Linked DNA regions of Homo sapiens. The protein of the gene in region 2 interacts with the protein of the main gene of each other region in a pairwise test. Each region holds a gene or a part of one and is shown on either strand. Other genes may lie near its edges.

The links.
Region 1: the proteins of PLD1 (region 2) and SYNC interact in binary tests that used the Homo sapiens proteins (3 or more experiments, as listed by UniProt).

Annotation. Positions count from the first base shown.
Region 1 is NC_000001.11:32,690,865-32,700,796, reverse strand, and holds part of SYNC (syncoilin), read left to right. Parts: intron 1-3,367; exon of another isoform or gene 3,368-3,461; intron 3,462-4,752; coding exon 4,753-5,932; intron 5,933-9,932.
Region 2 is NC_000003.12:171,673,374-171,683,305, forward strand, and holds part of PLD1 (phospholipase D1), read right to left. Parts: intron 4,322-9,932; coding exon 4,193-4,321; intron 3,461-4,192; coding exon 3,342-3,460; intron 1,241-3,341; coding exon 1,127-1,240; intron 1-1,126. UniProt on the Homo sapiens protein: Function as phospholipase selective for phosphatidylcholine. Implicated as a critical step in numerous cellular pathways, including signal transduction, membrane trafficking, and the regulation of mitosis.

The DNA.
Region 1 (9,932 bases), on a different chromosome or scaffold from region 2:
CAGTTGTGGAACCTTGTGTGAGTTCTTACTCTGTGCATTGGCTTCCTCATCTATAAAATGGAGATAATAGATGAAGATTCTTTCTTTCTTTCTTTTTTTGAGACAGAGTCTTGCTCTTGTTGCTCAGGCTGGAGGGCAATGGCGCAATCTCAGTTCACTGCAACCTCTGTCTCCCAGGTTCAAGCAATCCTCCTGCTTCAGCCTCCTGAGTAGCTAGGATTACAGGCACACACCACCATACCCAGCTAATCGTTTGTATTTTTAGTAGAGACGGAGTTTCACCATGTTGGCCAGGCTGGTCTCAAACTCCTGACCTCAGGTGATCCACCCGCCTCGGCCTCCCAAAGTGCTGGGATTACAGGCGTGAGCCACTGCACCCAGCCAATAGATGATGAGGATTCTATAAATGAGTATTCATGTAAAATGCCTAGAATAATCTTGAACACGGTGAAGTCATTCCAAGGTGGGCGGCTCGGCACGAGAATGATGAAAGGGCCGTCTGCTGGGAAAGCAGGGACTGTTGAATATCAGAGTGAGTTTGGCTGGCTGAGCAGGTGCATCCTTCCTGGCCCTGGCTCTAGGAGCTCTGCCTTCCCAGGTAGTACAGGGTTCTCTAGTTAGGTGGTTTTTGAGAAGCTGCAATTCTCAGCTGGACACCGTGGGCTTAGAGTAGGAGGTGTAAAAAGTTAATGCAAGCTCTAGGATGTCAAGCATTGGGTGGGTTGCAGGAATAATGTGAGAGGAAGCTAAAAAAGGTATGTTTGGGGCCGGGTGTGGTGGCTTATGCCTGTAATCCCAGCACTTTGGGAGGCCGAGGCAGGCGGATCATGAGGTCAGGAGTTCGAGACCAGCCTGACCAAGATGGTGAAACCCTGTCTCTTCTAAAAATACAAAAAATTAGCCAGGCATGGTGGTGGGCGCCTGTAGTCTCAGCTACTCGGGAGGCTGAGGTAGAGAATTGCTTGAAACCAGGAGCCGGAGGTTGCAGTGAGCCGAGATTGCACCACTGCACTCCAGCCTGGGCAACAGAGCGAGACTCTGGCTCAAAAAAAGAAAAAAAAAAAAAAAGGTATGTTTGGGCCACATCTTTAAGGACCTTGAAACCATGCGTAGCAATTTGGGTATTTATTGGTGAAGTGGAGCAATAGTTCACTCTGTGTTGTAGCAAGTTAACTGTGGTGGTGTAGAGAATAGATTGAGGTGAGGAGAGGAGGAAGTCCTTTTAGAAGACCAGGACAAAAGTGCCAGTGAGACAGGATGTCTTGGAGTAGGGCCCTGATAGTGGGATGCAGAAGAGGGGGATGGAGACTGTAGTCTTTCTAAGATAGAAAGGTCACTTTTTGGCCAGGCGCAGTGACTCGTGCCTGTAATCCCAGCACTTTGGGAGGCCATGATCCCTGGTGGATCACGAGGTCAGGAGATTGAGACCATCCTGGCCAACATGGTGAAACCCTGTCTCTACTAAATACACAAAAATTAGCCAGGCGTGGTGGCAGGCACCTATAGTCTCAGCTACTCAGGAGGCTGAGGCAGGAGAATCACTTGAACCCAGGAGGAGGAGGTTGCAGTGAGCTGAGACCACGCCACTGCACTCCAGCCTGGGCGACAGAGTGAAGCTCCATCTCAAAAAAAAAAAAAAAAAAGAAAAGAAAAGTCACTTCTCAGTGAACTGGCTATACAGGGGAGGGAAAGAGCTGTCTGAAGATTTCTTGCCTGTGGCCGGATGTGGTGGCTCATGCCTGTAATCCCAGCACTTTGGGAGGTCTAGGTAGGAGGATCGCTTGAGCTCAGGAGTTTGAGACCAGCCTGAGCAACATAGTGAGACTTCATCTCTACAAAAAGTTAAAAAATTAGCGGGTGTGGCGCTACGTGCCTGTAGTCCTGGCTACCCGGGAGGCTGAGGCAGGAGGATGGCTTGAGCCGGGGAGGTTGAGGCTGCAGTGAGCTATGATCATGCCACAGTACTCAGGCCTGGGCGACAGAGGGAGACTCCATCTCAAAAAAAAAAAAAAAGACAAAAACAAAAAAACAGAAACAGGAAAGACCAAAGCTATTTGCATTTGAGGGGCAAAGCAGCAAGAGAACACTCCCCAGTGGGAACTGACTGAGCTGGCAGGCAATAGGCAGCTGGGTCAAAGAGCTCAGATGTCAGAATGATGGAATCTGACTTCAAGAGCGTTTGACAGGATAGAAGGGTGGGCCAGTTCTAACAAGATGAACTTTTACAGAAACAAGAAATGTTGCTTACAAGCACTTGGTATGAAAAACTTTTTTTTTTGATACAGAGTTTGGTTTTGTTGCCCAGGCTGGAGTGCGGTGGCGCAATCTGGGCTCACTGCAAGCTCCGCTTCCCAGGTTCACACCATTCTCCTGCCTCAGCCTCCCGAGTAGCTGGGACTACAGGTGCCCGCCACCACGCCTGGCTAATTTTTTTGTACTTTTAGTAGAGACGGGGTTTCACTGTGTTAGCCAGTATGGTCTCGATCTCCTGACCTCATGATCCGCCTGCCTCAGCCTCCCAAAGTGCTGGGATTACAGGCGTGAGCCACCACGCCCGGCATTTTTTTTTTTTTTTTTTTTTTGAGATGGAGTCCCGGTCTGTCGCCCAGGCTGTGGTGTGATCTCGGCTCACTGCAACCTCTGCCTCCCAGGTTCAAGCGATTCTTGTGCCTTAGCCTCCCGAGTAGCTGAGATTACAGGCATGCACCATCATGCCCTGCTAAGTTTTGTATTTTTAGTAGAGACGGGGTTTCACCATGTTGGCTAGGCTGATCTCGAACTCCTGAGCTCAGGTGATCCACCCGTCTTGGCCTCCCAAAGTGCTGGCATTACAGGCGTGAGCCATCTCGCCCAGCCCTGGGGCACTGTTTTTGATACCCATCCCAATTTCTAGCTCTTGGGGAACTTAAGAATAAAGGCAAATTAAAAAAAAATCCTCAAAAGAGTGACAGTCTGAAAGCTGTCATTTGTGTCACAAGGATATGACACAAATGAAGAGGGCACTGGAAACCTGGACATGTATGGAATAACAAAGATAAGCTGGGTTTTTTTTGTTTTTTTTTTTGACAGGGTCTCTGTTGCCCAGGCTGGGGTGCAGAGTGGTGCAGTCATGGCTCAGCACAGCCTCGACCTCCCAGGCTCAGGTGATTCTCCCACCACAGCCTCCCAAGTATCTGGGACTACAGGTGTACACCATCATGCCCAGCTAATTTTTTGTATTTTTTTGTAGAGATGGGGTTTCGCCATGTTGCCCACGCTGGCCTTAAACTCCTGGACTCAAGAGGTCTTGGCCTCCCAAAGTGCTGGATTACAGACATGAGCCACCGCACTTGACCACGGTTATCTTTTTTTTTTTTTTGAGACGGAGTTTCGCTGTTGTTGCCCAGGCTGGAGTGCAATGGTGCAATCTCGTCTCACTGCAACCTCTGCCTCTTTGAAGTTCAAGAGATTCTCCTGCCTCAGTGAGTATCTGGGATTACAGGCATGCACCACCACGCCCGGCTAATTTTGTATTTTTAGTAGAGATGGGGTTTCTCCATGTTGGTCAGGCTGGTCTTGAACTCCCGACCTCAGGTGATCCGCCTGATTCGGCCTCCCAAAGTGCTGAGATTACAGGTGTGAGCCACCACGCCTGGCCGACCATGGTTCTCTTTAAGTGTTTAGATAACTTACACAGAAAAGAAGGTAGAAATATCTGATCCTAGAAGGAAGAATCAGGTAAATCCAGTGGCTAAAAGTTACCAGGAATTGCTGGGCATGGTGGCTCAATGCCTGTAATCCCAACACTTTGGGAGGCTGAAGAGGGCGGATCACTTGAGGTCAGGAGTTTGAGACCAGCCTGGCCAACATGGTAAAACCCCATCTCTACTAAAAATACAAAAATCAGCTGAGTGTGATGGCACGTGTCTGTAGTCCCACCTACCTGGGAGGTGGAGGCTGAAATGGCACCACTGCACTCCAGCCTGGGTGACAGAGCAAGACTCCATCTCAAAGAAAAAAAAAAGTTATAAGGAAGGTTTTACCTCAACATTATAATTTTATTAGAACTGGGCTGGGCGCAGTGGCTCATGCCTATAATCCCAGCACTTTGGGAGGCCGAGGCGGGCAGATCATGAGGTCAGGAGTTTGAGAACAGCCTGACTAACATGGTGAAACCCCATCTCCACTAAAAATACAAAAATTAGCCGGGCGTGGTGGTATGTGTGCCTATAATCCCAGCTGCTCAGGAGGCTGAGGCAGGAGAATCACTTGAACCTGGGAGGTGGAGGCTGCAGTGAGCCAAGATCGCACCACTGCATTCCAGCCTGGCAACAGAGCAAGACTCCGTCTCAAAAAAAAAAGGCGTGGTGGTGCTACTTGGGAGGCTGAGGCAAGAGAATCGCATGAACTGGGGGACAGAGGTTGCAGTGAGCCGACATCACGCTATTGCACTCCAGCCTCGGCAATACAGCGGGACTCCATCTCAAAAAAAAAAAATTATTATAATTGTGGAACAAACAGTGGTGCCTCAGGTATGTCGAGTCCTTGGAGCTGCATAAGCAGAGACCATATGGTGATGTCGCTGGGATGCTGGCAGGGGATCTACACCGTGGTTGGGTGTGTGGAGGGGTGGATTGACAGAGTGGAGGGAGCAGACGAATGGCTGCTGACATCTAAGAACCTGAGGTAGTCTAGGCCCATGGCTGCTGGCTCCAGAATTGCACCATCCTGGGATTGTGGCTGCCCTTTCACTTTCAATCATTTCTTTTGCAGGAAAACAAGAGTAGAGGCCAATTCTCCTCTTCCAAAGAACTCTGGATCCCTAAATGAGGCAGAAGCCTTGAACCCAGAAGTTACTCTATCTTCAGAGGGGTCCTTAAACCTCGAAGACATTCTCTACCTGGAGGACACAGGTGACCTTGATGAGACACTCTATGTGCAAGAGACTGAGAAGGCAGAGGAGGCCCTGTATATTGAGGAGGCCATGCAGCCAGATGAGGCTCTGCATGTGGAGGAGCCTGGGAATCCAGAGGAGACAGTGTGTGTGGAGGAAACCACGGAGCCAGATCGGATACAGTTTGTGGAGGGGCCCGTGGAGCCAGGAAAGCCCACAAGCCCAGAGCACGTTGTTTATGAGGGAGAGACAGTCACAAGGGCGGAGAAATCTAACCCTGAGGAGAGCCTCAGAGCCGAGCAGAGCCCCAGCATGGAGGAGAACCTGAGCATAGAGGACCTGGAATTGCTAGAGGGGCGTTTCCAGCAGTGTGTCCAAGCTGTGGCCCAGCTGGAAGAGGAGAGGGATCAGCTCATCCATGAGCTTGTATTGCTCCGGGAACCAGCCCTGCAGGAGGTACAGCAAGTCCATCAAGACATCCTGGCTGCCTACAAGCTCCATGCCCAAGCAGAGCTGGAGAGAGATGGCCTAAGGGAGGAGATCCGGCTGGTCAAGCAGAAGCTTTTCAAAGTGACAAAGGAATGTGTGGCCTACCAATACCAGCTGGAGTGCCGCCAGCAGGACGTGGCTCAGTTTGCCGATTTCCGGGAAGTGCTGACTACAAGGGCAACCCAGCTCTCAGAGGAACTGGCCCAGCTCCGGGATGCCTATCAGAAGCAGAAGGAGCAGCTGCGGCAACAACTAGAAGCCCCTCCAAGCCAGAGGGATGGGCACTTTCTCCAGGAAAGCCGGCGACTCTCTGCCCAGTTTGAAAATCTCATGGCAGAGAGCCGCCAGGACCTGGAGGAGGAGTATGAGCCTCAGTTCCTGCGGCTCCTAGAGAGGAAAGAAGCTGGGACCAAAGCTCTGCAGAGAACCCAGGCTGAGATCCAGGAAATGAAGGAGGCTCTGAGACCCCTGCAAGCAGAGGCCCGGCAGCTCCGCCTGCAAAACAGGAACCTGGAGGACCAGATCGCACTTGTGAGGCAAAAACGAGATGAAGAGGTGCAGCAGTACAGGGTAGGCCCATTGGGCATGAAAAGAACTGAGGTCTTTTAACCTGGGGAAAGAGTGGCCAGAGTCCAAGGTCTTTGGGGCTGAAAGATAGTGTCACATGTAGGAAGAAAAATTTGTTCTTTGGGGCCACGCAATTTTTTCTCCATTCTTCATTCATTCAGGCCCATGCTAGGGACTAGAAGTTATCTGCACTGTTTTTTGTTTTTTTTTTTTTGAGATGGAGTCTCGCTCTGTCGCCCAGGCTAGAGTGCAGTGGTGCGATCTCAGCTCACTACAAGCTCTGCCTCCTGGGTTCATGCCATTCTCCTGCCTCAGCCTTCTGAGTAGCTGGGACTACAGGTGCTCACCACCATGCCCGGCTATTTTTTTGTATTTTTAGTAGAGTCGGGGTTTCACTGTTGTTAACCAGGATGGTCTGGATCTCCTGACCTCGTGATCCGCCTGCCTTGGCCTCCCAAAGTGCTGGGATTACAGGTGTGAGCCACCGCGCCCGGCCTGCACTCTGTTTTTTTTGCGACAGGGTCTTGCTGTCACTTAGGCTGGTGCAGTGGCATGATCACAGCTAACTGCAGCCTCGACCTCTCAGGTTCAAGCGATCCTCCCACCTCAGCCTCTTGAGTAGCTGGGACCACAACTGTGCACCAACATGCCCAGCTAATTTTTTCTTTTTTGAGACAGGTGCAATCTTGAGGGCTCACTGCACCTCAAACCTCTTGGGCTCAAGCGATCCTCCTGCCTTAGCCCCCAAGCAGCTGGGACTACAAGTGTGTGCCACCATACCTGGCTAATTTTTTGTAGAGACAGGGTTTCACCACGTGGCCCAGGCTGGATTTGAACTCCTGAGCTCAAGCTATCCGCCTGCCTTGGCCTCCCAAAGAGCTAGGATTATAGGTGTGAGCCACCGCAGCCGGCCAATTTTTGTATTTTTTGTAGACAGGGTTTTGCCATGTTGCCCAGGCTGGTCTTGAAATCCTGGGCTCAAGTACTTTTAATGGCAAAAGCTGCAATTAATTTTGCACCAACCTTAATAGAATCCTCTCATCTTCACTTTCCTTTTATGTGCATTTGTCCCCATCTCTCTTGCATTCAAGTTATTTCTGATTAAGTGTGAGCCAGTTCTAATCCCTTTTTAGAACAGAGTGGGATATAAATACTAAGTGAATAAACAATTACGTAGTCCCTCCTAGACTGTGAACTTTCAGAAGGTAGGGAATACATTTTACTTATTGTTGTATTACTCTCTGCTACTCAAGGCTCAGAGCACATGTGCTGCTGGGCACTAATGAGAAGACTGTAGTGTGGTGCTCTAAGCAGTACTTTAATCTTTTGAAACACTGATTCCTTTGGATAAACTTAGAAATCTATGTCTTCCCAGAGATTGTGATATGCCCTTAAGGGAACAAGTTTCCCTGTTGAAATGGCTGCATTCACTTCACTGAAGATTTTGTCAAGCTTTCTGTAGTTTGTATTATGAAAACACTCTGTCTGGGAGCGGTGGCTCACGCCTGTAATCCCAGCACTTTGGTTGGGAGGCTGAGGTGGGTGGATCACAAGGTCAGTAGTTTGAGACAAGTATAGCCAATATGGTGAAACCCCGTCTCTACTAAAAAGACAAAAATTAGGGGGGCATGGTGGCACATGCCTGTAGTCCCAGCTACTTGGGAGGCTGAGGCAGGAGAATCGCTTGAACCCGGGAGGCGGAGGTTGCAGTGAGCTGAGATTGCACCACTGCACTCTAGCCTGGGTGACAGAGTGAGACTCCATCTCAAAAACAAACAAAAACAAACAAACAAAAAAAAAACACTGTGGTTTTTGGGGTCATAATACTGAATGTTTTTTATTTTTATCTTTATTTATTTATTTTTGAGACAGAGTCTTGCTCTTTCACCCAGGCTGGAGTGCACTGAACCAATCTCGGCTCACTGCAAACTCCACCTCCCGGGTTCAAGCAATTCTCATTTCAGCCTCCTGAGTTGCTGGGACTACAGGTGCCCGCCACTGCACCCAGCTAATTTTTTGTATTTTAGTAGAGATGGGGTTTCACCATGTTGCCCAGGGTGGTCTCAAACTCCTGAGCTTAGGCAGTCCACCCGCCTCAGCCTCCCAGTTATTTTTACAGAGTCTCGCTCTGTCACACAGGCTGGAGTGCAGTGGAGTGCAGTGGCATGATCTCAGCTCACTGCAACCTCTGCCTCCTGGGTTCAAGCAATCCTCCTGCCTCAGTCTCCCAAGTTGCTGGGATTGCAGACCTGTGCCACCATGCCCAGCTAATTTGGGTATTTTAGTAGAGATGGGGTTTCACCATGTTGGTCAGGCTGGTCTCGAACACCTGACCTCAGGTGATCCACCGGCCTCAGCCTCCCAGTGTTGGGATTACAGGCGTAAGCCACCACACCCAGAAGTAATACTGAATGTTTTTAAACTCTTCATATTCCCCTTACCCTATTTTTTAAAAAATTGGTTCACAGTCTAGTGAAAAGTCATTTATTTAGCATCAATACTATCCTTAACAGCCAATACTCAGACAGACATTACATTAATAGTTGTATCTCAGAGAAGAAAGTAATAGGTGATTTATGAGAGGTGCAGGTAAAAGGGCTGTGGGATAGATGATGATGATGATGATGATTATTATTTTTTGAGACGGAGTCTGTCACTCTTGCCCAGGCTGGAGTGCAGTGGCGCTCAGCTCACTGCAAGCTCTGCCTCCCGGGTTCGCGCCATTGTCCTGCCTCAGCCTCCCGAGTAGCTGGGATTGCAGGCGCCCGCCACCGCACCAGGCTAATTTTTTGCATTTTTAATAGAGACGGGGTTTCACCGTGTTAGCCAGGATGGTCTCCATCTCCTGATCTTGTGATCCGCCCGCCTCGCCTCTCAAAGTGCTGGGATTACAGGCATGAGCCACTGCGCCCGGCCGGGATAGATTATTTTTAGGCGCTGGTTAAATCAGAGAACTCTTCATGAAAAAAGAGGTGGAATTTGAGCTAGGTATGAAAGCATAGGGAGAATCTAGACCAGTGCTGCCCAACAGAAATATAATGCAAGTCACATAAATAATTACAAATTTTCTAATAGCCACATTAAAATAGGCAAAAATTCAGCTGAGCTAAGCCTGAGGGGAGCAGGGGAGAAAAGATATAGGTAAAATTAATTTAAATATATTTTATCTAACTCAACATATCTGAAATATAATTAGTAACTTGGCTGCAGGTGACAAGCTTGAGTTTTGGACTTTATTCAGTAGTCTGCTGCATCATTAAAGGGATTTAATCAGGGAAGTAACATGATTGCCTTGCTACTTTTTTTTTTTTTTCTGAGATGGAGTCTCCCTCTGTCACCCATGCTGGAGTGCAGTGGCACGATCTCGCCTTGCTGCAACCTCCACTTCCCAGGTTCAAGCAATTTTCCTGCCTCAGCCTCCCAAGTAGCTGGGATTACAGGCGCCTAACACCATGGACGTGGCTAATTTTTTTTTAGTCGGAGTCTCTTCTATTGCCTAGGCTGGAGTGCAATAGCGTGATCTCGGCTCATTGCAACCTCTACCTCCCGGGTTCAAGCAGTTCTCCTGCCTCAGCCTCCCGAGTAGCTGGGACTACAGGTGCACAGTGCCACGCCTGGCAAATTTTTTTTGTTGTTTTTTTTTGTTTTTTGAGAAGGAGTCTCGCTCTGTCACCCAGGCTGGAGTGCAGTGGCATGATCTGGGCTCACTGCAACCTCTGCCTCCTGGGTTCAAGCGATTTTCCTGCCTCAGCCTCCCGAGTAGCTGGGACTACAGGTGCATGCCACCATAGCTGGCTAATTTTTTCTATTTTTATTAGAGACAGTGTTTCACTATGTTAGCCAGGATGGTCTTGATCTCCTGACCTCATGATCCACCTGCCTCGGCCTCCCAAAGTACTGGGATTATAGGTGTGAGCCACTGAGCCCGGCCAATTGTTTGTATAGTAGGGACGGGGTTTCACCGTATTGCCCAGGATGGTCTTGAACTCCTGAGCTCAGGCAG
Region 2 (9,932 bases):
TGGGTTTAAGCGATTCTCCTGCCTCAGCCTCCCGAGTAGCTAGGATTACAGGCGCACGCTACCACGCCCAGCTAATTTCTTATTTTTAGTAGAGACAGGGTTGGCCAGGCTGGTCTCGAACTCCTGACCTCAGGTGATCCACCCGCCTCGGCCTCCCAAAGTGCTAGGACTACAGGTGGGAGCCACCACACCTGGCCTTTTTTAAAAAAAGTTCTATTATTTGATCTACAGTCTGAAATGTCTTATTTCTTATATACACATACCTCCAATTGCACACGATGCAAAATAACTGATTTAGGCACTTCATTTATATAATCACATTCCCTAGGATCCATGTCTGCATTATATAAGTCCCTACTGATGGTCCCTACTGATGATATGTAGCAGTAGCAGACTGCTGGACTTTACTTAAACAATTCTTCTGATGCCCATATTGATGACTTCAAACAAAAGGCAATGCCAAAGGTGGCCCATCCTACTTCTGTCCCCACATGATCTCAAGATATTTGAGCTGTAGTTGGTAAAGGAAGCAGATTGGGTAACACTGGACCAGACTAGGATTTCAAGCTCCACCTCTGTTGATAACTAGCTGGCCGGCCCTAGATAGGCCTCAGAGCCCCACTAGGTCTGAATTTTCTTATTTGTAGTTTGAGATGGTTAAACTGGATGTGGTAAACTGTTGTGACTCTATTAAGCAAATTCCTTATTCCATTAAAAGGGCCTCTAGAAGACATTTGGTTAATCAGGAACTAAAATTAGACTGAACTACAACTAGCTTCCTAGCTGCTAAGTTTCAGCCACATTCCTGGTGCTTAGGCAGTATCAGGTCCAGGTTTACTGGGTATCATGTTGCTAGGGTCACTTCAGAAGGAATTACAGGAATAGCCTTGGCTGTGGCCTTTTCTAAGGACATGCATTTATTATATTTATAAGAGTTTTAAAAAGAGACTGAATTGAATCCATTTAACATAGGAAATATAATAACAAGTATTAAAAGATCCATTTAGTTTTGCTTTAGAAAAGCAGTCATTGAAAAATCTGAAGCCAATGTAATAGGCCCTTGGTCCAATAACAGTAATTTTACTCAGTAGCATTTTGTCAAAAAGAAAAGCCAGAACTTACTTACCTGTACGTTAGCATGGACAGACCCAGGCACTTGATATCTCAACTCATGGGCTGTTGTTTGAGACTTTGGAAGCAGAAAAGGATAAGAAAGGGACCGATATTTTGATTTCATAATCTAAAATAAAGAAAAAGGATAAAATATTCAAATGAGAAAAAAGATTCATTCTCCCTACTTTGTGATTATAAAAGAAATTCATGCCCAGGTGCAGTGGCTCACGCCTGTAATCCCAGCACTTTGGGAGGCCAAGAAGCGGGGATCACTTGAGGTCAGGAGTTCGAGATCAGCCTGGCCAACACGGTGAAACCCCCATCTCTACTAAAAATACAAAAATTAGCCAAGCATGGTGGCGGGCGCCTGTAATCCCAGCTACTCGGGAGGCTGAGGCAGGAGAATCACTTGAACCTCGGAGGCAGAGGTTGCAGTGAGTCGAGATTTCATCATTGCACTACAGCCTGGGTGACAAGAGTGAATCTCCATCTCAAAAAAAAAAAAAAAAAAAAGAAAAAGAAAAGAAAAGAAATTCAGGTTAATTTGAAAAAGAAAAAGAAAAATGTTAATGGTGGACATTTCTAAGTGAAGGGCTACAGATTATTTGTGTTTGTTTTCTACTTCTCACAGTCCTGTTTTTACCTTTTGTAGGGGAAATATTGTTTTATATTTGTAAAGACAGGTTAAATATAATCTGTAGTTACAGAACTTTATAATTGCAAAAATGAGACTATTGTTTTATAAACTAATTTTTTACTGATTATGTTCTAGATATCTTGTCACAGCAATATAGTGGGATATCATTATTTTTAATAACTTCATAGTAAAATGGTATAAAAGAATCATTTGTTTAATAAATTCCTATTAGTAAGGATTTCTGTTATTTCTAATTTTATTTGAATTATTAGAAGCCATATCAAAATAAATTACCTTATTGGATTATGGCTTTAGTTTGAATACCCGGAAATAGTTTTTCTGGATCAAAGATTGCATACTTTAAAAAAGACTTATTGGTGTTGTACAAATTTATCCTCCCTGGGGTAGCATGTATGAGCACACCACAAAAACCACCCCAAACCTAACTACAGGTATCAGCAGAGACTTTTATCTTTGCCAGTATAGCAGGTTAAAAGTAACACCCCATTTGTTTATTCATCCATCTCCCCTAAATTTTTGTTAAAAAATTTCAATTAGAATGTCCACTAAATTTTTATAATCATTATGTGAATGAAAAACAAAGTTAGACTCTAAGTGGTTGATAAAACTAAATTCTTTTTCCAAACGACCAAGGGGAATCATGACTCATTATCCCTTCAAGTAAATAAAGTGAAACTTTAATAACACCTGAATATGTACTTTTTTTTTTTTTTTTTGAGACAGAGTCTCGCTCTGTTGCCTAGGCTGGAGTACAATGGAGTCCTCTCAGCTCACTGCAAACTCCGCCTCCTGGATTCAAGTGATTTTCCTGCCTCAGCCTCCAGAGCAGTTGAGATTACAGGCACCCACCACCATGCCCAGCTAATTTTTGTATTTTAGTAGAGACAGGTTTTCACCATGTTGGTCAGGCTGGTCTCGAACTCCTGACCTCAGGTGATCCACCAGCCTAGGCCTCCCAAAGTGCCAGGATTACAGTCGTGGGCCACCGTGCCTGGCCTGAATGATACGTACTTAACTTATGAATGTTAGGTTTGAATGTTATGTCAAGTTCTTACAAGTAATGAGGACACAATCTGGATAAAAGGAAAATGGCCCCACCTTCTTAATACTTCTTGGTTTGCTCAGAACCAGCTCTCAGAATCCTGTACCAATATAAACCCAGTGCAATTCCAGTCCCATCCAACTGGATGGGACTTTAAAGCTCAAGCCCTCTCATCTAAACCAGGCTCCTATCCCCCTATAACAGCCCTGCAAATGACTACCGAGCCCAGGCTACTAAATGCTTAGTCAACACTGTGTCCAAGATGTTAACAAGGTTAAAATCAGGACCCACACAGCAGCACCTGTCCCTAGGCACTCTGAATTGTCTATGGTGTGGACATTCGGGAATGTTTCCCTTTTTTTTTGCCCAGATGCCCAGGCACCCGGACATCAATGCAGCCAACAGCAGAGCAGTGACACAGTTGTGGCCACAACAGTCTCTTCTTGCTACCAGCCTCCTCTAAACCTCTTCTCTAGTTAGGCCTGCCTCTCTTCATGTGGATAAATCATGATAGCAACATCCAAGTACTTTTGTGAAGTTCCAGCGCTGGATGAAGTGACGTGCCACATCACGAGCCGCCTTCCCGTGGACTGCAGAGGCAATGTCATGCCAGGGCATCCGGGGCGTGGAGTACCTGTCAATGAAATCTGCCCGGGTGCACCAGGCAAGGATCAGTCATTAACTTCAGTGTTGGGGCAAAGTCTCTCTGACTCCAACTATGAAACTAAAAGGAAACGTGGGTTAGTGCCCACTAGGTATATATTTCTTGGCTTGCATAGAACAACATTTTTATAATCAAGGGAAACAGATTTCACATTCAGGGACATAGTCTCCCAGGCACTTCCCCACATATGTTTCCGTTTCACTTAGGATTAGATAATCACTAGACATGGCAAGATGTGAGTTGGTACAAATTATCTAAGGCTGTGTATTTGATATTATATTTTTTATTTTTTATCCTGTTGAAACAATGGCAGGCAATGCCATCTCTATCTCCTCTTAAACATATAAACCCAGTGATAACCTGAAAATATGCCATTCTAACGCTGGAAATGCAGGAAATAAGCAGAATAGAAGATGATCAAAGGGAGCCTACCATTTCCTGAAAAATTACTGATTATTGCCCCCAAAATATGCCTATAAAAATCTGGATTTTTCAGACAGTTCAGCTCTATTTCATGTTCTTTTCTTATTATAACTGAAAAAAAAGTCCTTAAGCACATGCTAATGACTAAATCTAGTCTCCAAAGTTTTAAAAAATTTTCAAAAATCAACGGAAGCAAAACAAAAGGCATTTAGATCATGCACATGTATACTTGCTGAGATGTTCAAAGGTAAAAGACAAAATATAACCAGCACCCCACCATTATGATACTCACCAGCAAAAGGTTTATCAAGTTGAACCCAGTCTTTGAAGACGAAATTGCAGTAGTCCTTTCCATGCCAGAATCTGGTTTCCCCATGCAGCTCTCCCACACCTGTCTGTAAACTACGGATGGACCCGGTATCTGTGAATGCAGCAAGACCCCCTCAGAGACTGTGGTTCAGGTGAGTCCCAGAAAGGGAGGCTCAACTCTCATTTATTAAACACCTAAAAGCTTCTTAATTTCTTAAGACACAACTAGGGTGGCATCTGTCCATTCTATTACAGGCTGTGGGCTAACAAGGTTTTACAGTCCTTACAAGTTTACTTTTAGTGGGCAGTTAGGGCTACAACAAGATTCATCATTAAACAATGAAATTTGACCTTCTCAGGCAGTTGAGTAACTTATTTCCACCACCTACCAGATCACTGGAAGAACTATCACAGAATTAACTGTGAATAAAGAACTCACAAGGTGGCACTATGAGAGCAGTAAAGCTGGTGGGGGGCTTTCAGGGGCAGAGTGGGAAGGGCGGGGAGGGGAGAGGTGGAGAAACCTGAGACGCAGGGGCAATAAAGACACCATGCCACTTCTTTTTCCTCAACCAACATGGTGCACACCTGATGCATAATTCTTTTGCATTAAAGCAAGAACCTCAAATTTACAGATAGCCCATGTTCCAGCCCTGGAATTAATTAGCTAAGTGACACTGAGCTTCAGTTTTTTAGATCATAAATCCATTATGCGTAAAATGAAGAATTTGGCCTAGATAACAGCTAAAATCTGTTGCGCTTTAACATTTATATACTTCAAATCATAGATGGCATTTATAAAAAATATGGTAACAACAGATGAAAGCTTATGATATAGGTGCAAAAGCAGCAATCTACTATAGCATTTCACAAATAACTGTGCCGAGACCATTGACTTACGGCTAAATACAAAGACAATGAAGTAAAAAGATGCAGAATTACAAATCACAAACGCAGCACTTGGCACAAAAGAGGCATTTAACAAATAGACACTGAATGCAAAAATATGTGTTGAATGAATAAATGGTACTGCTTGCAGTAGCCAGTGAGAGGACTACACTGGTCCTGCCACCAACACACTGTCCCAGAACTGTCTTTGTAAAATGCACTCTTTGCTTAAAACCCTGGAAGGTTCACATACTGCCTATAGGAAGCTCAAGTCCTAAGGGCTTAGTGTGCATAGAAGACTCTTCCCAAACTGGTGCCAATCTATCTTTCTAGTCCTTGTTTTTCCCCACCCAACCCCAGGCCCCATGCAAATCACGTGTTTCACTGTATTATAACAGGTGTGGACTGCCATGTCTCCATGCAGTTGGCACATTATTACTTCTACCTGAAATGCTCCTTTCTCCCTCTTGGCCTGATATCCTAATCATCCTTCAAGAGCCACATTAGCTATCACCTGCCATCTCCCCATAAGGAAGAGGCAGTCACTAGCACTGCTGTCATCCCACTAACAACTGCCCCAACACCTCTGACTCTGTGACGCAATTGTATCAGGATGCTCCCCTGCCCGCATCAATGCCTCACCAGTCTATAAACTCTTTGGGAGTGGGAACCAAATCTTCTCACTGCCAGTAGCTCCAAGCACCCAGGCAATCAATAAATATTTGCAGAACAAATGTTTTTATGTAATCACCACACACAATGCTAATATTCTATCTCAAACTGAATCATTAACCTTTCAAAGGCTATTAAAGTTTTCTACAGAAGAAAAATGATTTAAAATGCCATAGATTAGCAAAATGAAATCATGTTAAAAATAGACTTCTATTGACTTCTCCCAGTGATTTATTTTCCTGCTTTATGAGACTGAAAGGCCAAAGTACGGGTAGGTCTGTTTGCTCATCTATAGGCTCTTTATTGTTTACATAGCACTTTGTTAAAAGAAGAAAAGAGGGTGAGAAAAGAAACAAAAGGGATGAAAAATGAGATAAACAATATTTCAAATTTCAAATATAAAATACACATATACAATTTGCTTTCATCAACTGCAAAACTCTAAGCTAAGGCTTTACATAAACACATATACACTCATTTAAAAATTATCTTTCACCTAACAACCAGTTATGATAAGGAAAATAAAGGAAATTCTTAGTCTCAGGAAATTATCTTGGTACTAATTGAATTCAACCTGCTCATAATTCAAATTTGTTTTTGTTTTTAGCCATGGCCTAAAAACTATTCCACATAAATTAGGGTTCCTCCTCAGTACAAATGAACTATTAAGGCAATAGAGCCAAATACTAGTTCCTGTGAAAACAGTAGCTCAGAATTACATGAGTGTGGTCGAGAGGACTTATGGCATCAACAATGCTGATCCAAGGGGGTCTCGTTAGGCTGCTATCTGGCTCCCAAATGATTTCATAATTGCACCTGCCTTGTCTTTTGGCACAGATTTGTCAGGCCAATTTTCTGCATCCTCCTCTGTCAGTGGCTCAGATTCTGGCTACTAAAGTTTATGAGAAGGGGGACTTCTTGTTCCTTGCCTGGTGTCCTCTGGTCGTGCCACATCCTCCTCCTTCTATTCTCATCTCTCGGCTTCCAGGTCTCCATTTTTCTACCATTTCTCCAGCCTATCCTTGTTCTTCTTTCCTAGCTCCTCCTCACTAACAAGGTTTCCCCCTTTCTCCTGTCTTTTTGTTTTCTTTTTCTTCCTCTTTTTTTTTTTTTTTTTTTTTTTTTTGAGACTGGAGTGCAGTGGCACGATCTCGGCTCACTGCAACCTCTGCCTCCCAGGGCCAAGTGTTCAAGCAATTCTCCTGCCTCAGCCTCCCGAGTAGCTGGGATTACAGGCGCACACCACCATGCCCTGCTAATTTTTGTATTTGATAGTAGAGACAGGGTTTCACCATGTTGGCCAGGCTCATCTCGAACTCCTGACCTCGTGATCTGCCTGCCTCGGCCTCCCAAAGTGCTGGGATTACAGGCGTGAGCCACCACACCCGGCCTCTCCTGTCTTTTTCTATACAATTTCTAAAATGTGCACCTGCAAGGATGGCTTCTGTTTTGGACTCCAAATCTAAGGTCACTTCCAGTGCCTCACTTGACATTGTTTACCTAGTTCCCTCCAGAACTTTAAAATTATGTCTAACACTAAAATCATCATCATTCCATAAAATCAAGTCTTTCCTTGAGATTTCTGCTGTCTGTGTGTAGTAACTCAAGCTCAAACCTCGGAATCACCTTTGGCTCCTTTATTCTTCGCTGACTTCTCCACCCACCTCCCCACGGCTTCCCAGATCATGATGAAAATCTGCTGATTCTGCTTTTGGAAAAAGTTTCTCCCATTTACTTCGTTCTTGAACTCACTGACACAACCTTGTCAGACTCCCTGTGTCTCTACTATAAACGCTATAAAGCCTCACCCTTAATTGCTCCCTGCCCCTAGGGATTTTCCAACATTTAATGGAAGAGGTGCAATGTCTCAGTCTGATTTTCAAAGTCCTCCGTAAACTGCTACAGATATATCCCACCAGCTCAATCTGCACAAATCAGCCCTTAACCACAATTCCAAAACTCCAAAAGTTCTAACAATTCAAATGTTTTTTCATAGCTGATTTTCACAGCTCATTTCATAACTCACAGGTCAGCAAAATCTGACCTGAACTGACAAGAGGTTATTTATTATCTTTATTGATCCCACTTGGTGTTGCACAAACATAAATGGTTTGCCTACATTCCAGGTATTTCCTGGATCCTGCTGGGAGTGTAATATAGTAGAGGGTATAGGTATTGTATTACCTTTCTAAAATCCAGAACTTTCTGATTTCTGAAATCTGATTCCAAGGATTTTGTATGAGAGATTATAGACCTATATGTATTTACCACATTCTACACTCAGTCTGAGATGCCGAAATAAATACTTTTGCATTTCCTATATCTGGGTCTTAAGATGTAGTATCTACCTAAAATGCCTGTTTTTCTACCTTTTTAGTCTCTACCTACCGAATTTCTACATATGTTCAAGGCCAGTTCCAATACAGGCACTGAACAAGTTATATTTTAAAAAATATTTTGGTTTTCAAAATTTTTTGGAATTTAGAATCGTGGTTAAGGGTTTGTAGACCTGTATTTCGTCTGTGGATCAATGATGACTCTTGCAGTAGGAGTATCTTCCCTCAATGAATTACTAAAATATTAGGTTTGTAAAATATTTAAAACTCATGCTCACCTATTAGATAACAAGCTATTTAACAGCACTAGATGAATCTTACACATCCTATCCATTGCATTCCTAAGAACAGTTTAGAAACAGCTTAATATTATCCCTTGTGACGAGACATTCAAATTTGAAAAGCCTGTCTCAACTAAATTGCAAAAATAATTTTTCCCTCACTTACCTATTTAATATTGCTTAAAAGGAAAAGATCAGCACATAGTTGCTGAATAGCATTAGGAGAAACACTTAATGTAGATGACAGGTTGATGGGTGCAGCAAACCACTGTGGCACTTGTATACCTATGTAACAAACCTGCATGTTCTGCACGTGTATCCCAGAACTTAAAGTATAATACAGAAAGAAAAAGAAAGAAAGAAAGAAAGAAAGAAAGAAAGAAAGAAAGAAAGAAAGAAAGAAAGAAAAAGAAAGAAAGAAAGAAAGAAAGGGAATAAAATTCAACACTTTAAAAATAGTATCAAGCAAAATTCTCCCTCTTAGAACATAATTCTGAATGAAAAAAAATCTTGAAAATGACTGAGTGATTTTGAAAAACATATATTTCAGATATGATTCCTAACCACGTTTTTAGTGCAGTTTTTCTATATAAAAACCCATAGTGATGTTCACTCCACACTGATTTCTGTATGACACCAGGAGGTTTAATTCAACAAGGAGCCCAATTCAACATGGTCATATGCGGTCAAGTGAAATTGATATTGCAGAGAGGCTAACTCTCTTTGCATTCTCAGGAAAAGGAAGTCATTAACTCAAGTTCATATTCAGTTTTAAATTTCTAACGAAGAGTCACTCCATGCTTAATTTGGGTTTCAAGTTTTATAAGGCAACCTGAGTTTTTAAGGTATTACATGATTTAAATCTAGAGCCTTGCTCTTTAAACTTCCTTCATTTTTTTAGTAGAACTTTTCTTTTTTGAAAACAAGTTCAGAAGGAACTCCAATAATTAAAACAGATACAAGTGGGATTGTTCTGGTTGAAGAGGTACCAATAGCTGTGGGAGGGTCCTGGGGTTCACCTACTTCAATGTTCTCCTCAAAGCCTTTTAAAAACTCCAGGATCCAAGGAATCGACTTTGGAAAGCACTGCTCTAGAAGGACCCCATGATCCTTTGGCTTTTCTTTTTAGGTAAACTGTTTTCATTTTAAAAAATTAAATTTGTATTTATATTTGACTATAAAAGTAAAATGAAAACAGTACCAACAATGTGGGAAAAAAATAAATCACCTCACGCTCCATCTTCCTAACAAAGATAGCATCATTGAATGTCCTTTGTCAGCTGCCTTCACGAACATATTTTGATACAGTGGCAATTGTCCTCAAATTTTCCTTGCTCTTCCCATAGCCACCTCATTTCAGTTCATGGAAATTCCATCTTTCCAGTGGGGCCAAAGATTTGGAGTCCTCTCCATCTCTCACATCTTGTATCTAGTTCATCGGCAAATGCTGTCAGCTCGACCCTCAAAATATATTCACAACCTGCAGAGTCACCATTTGCCACCCTGGTCTGCTCTGAAGAATGATCCTTGGAAAATGTAAGTCAGC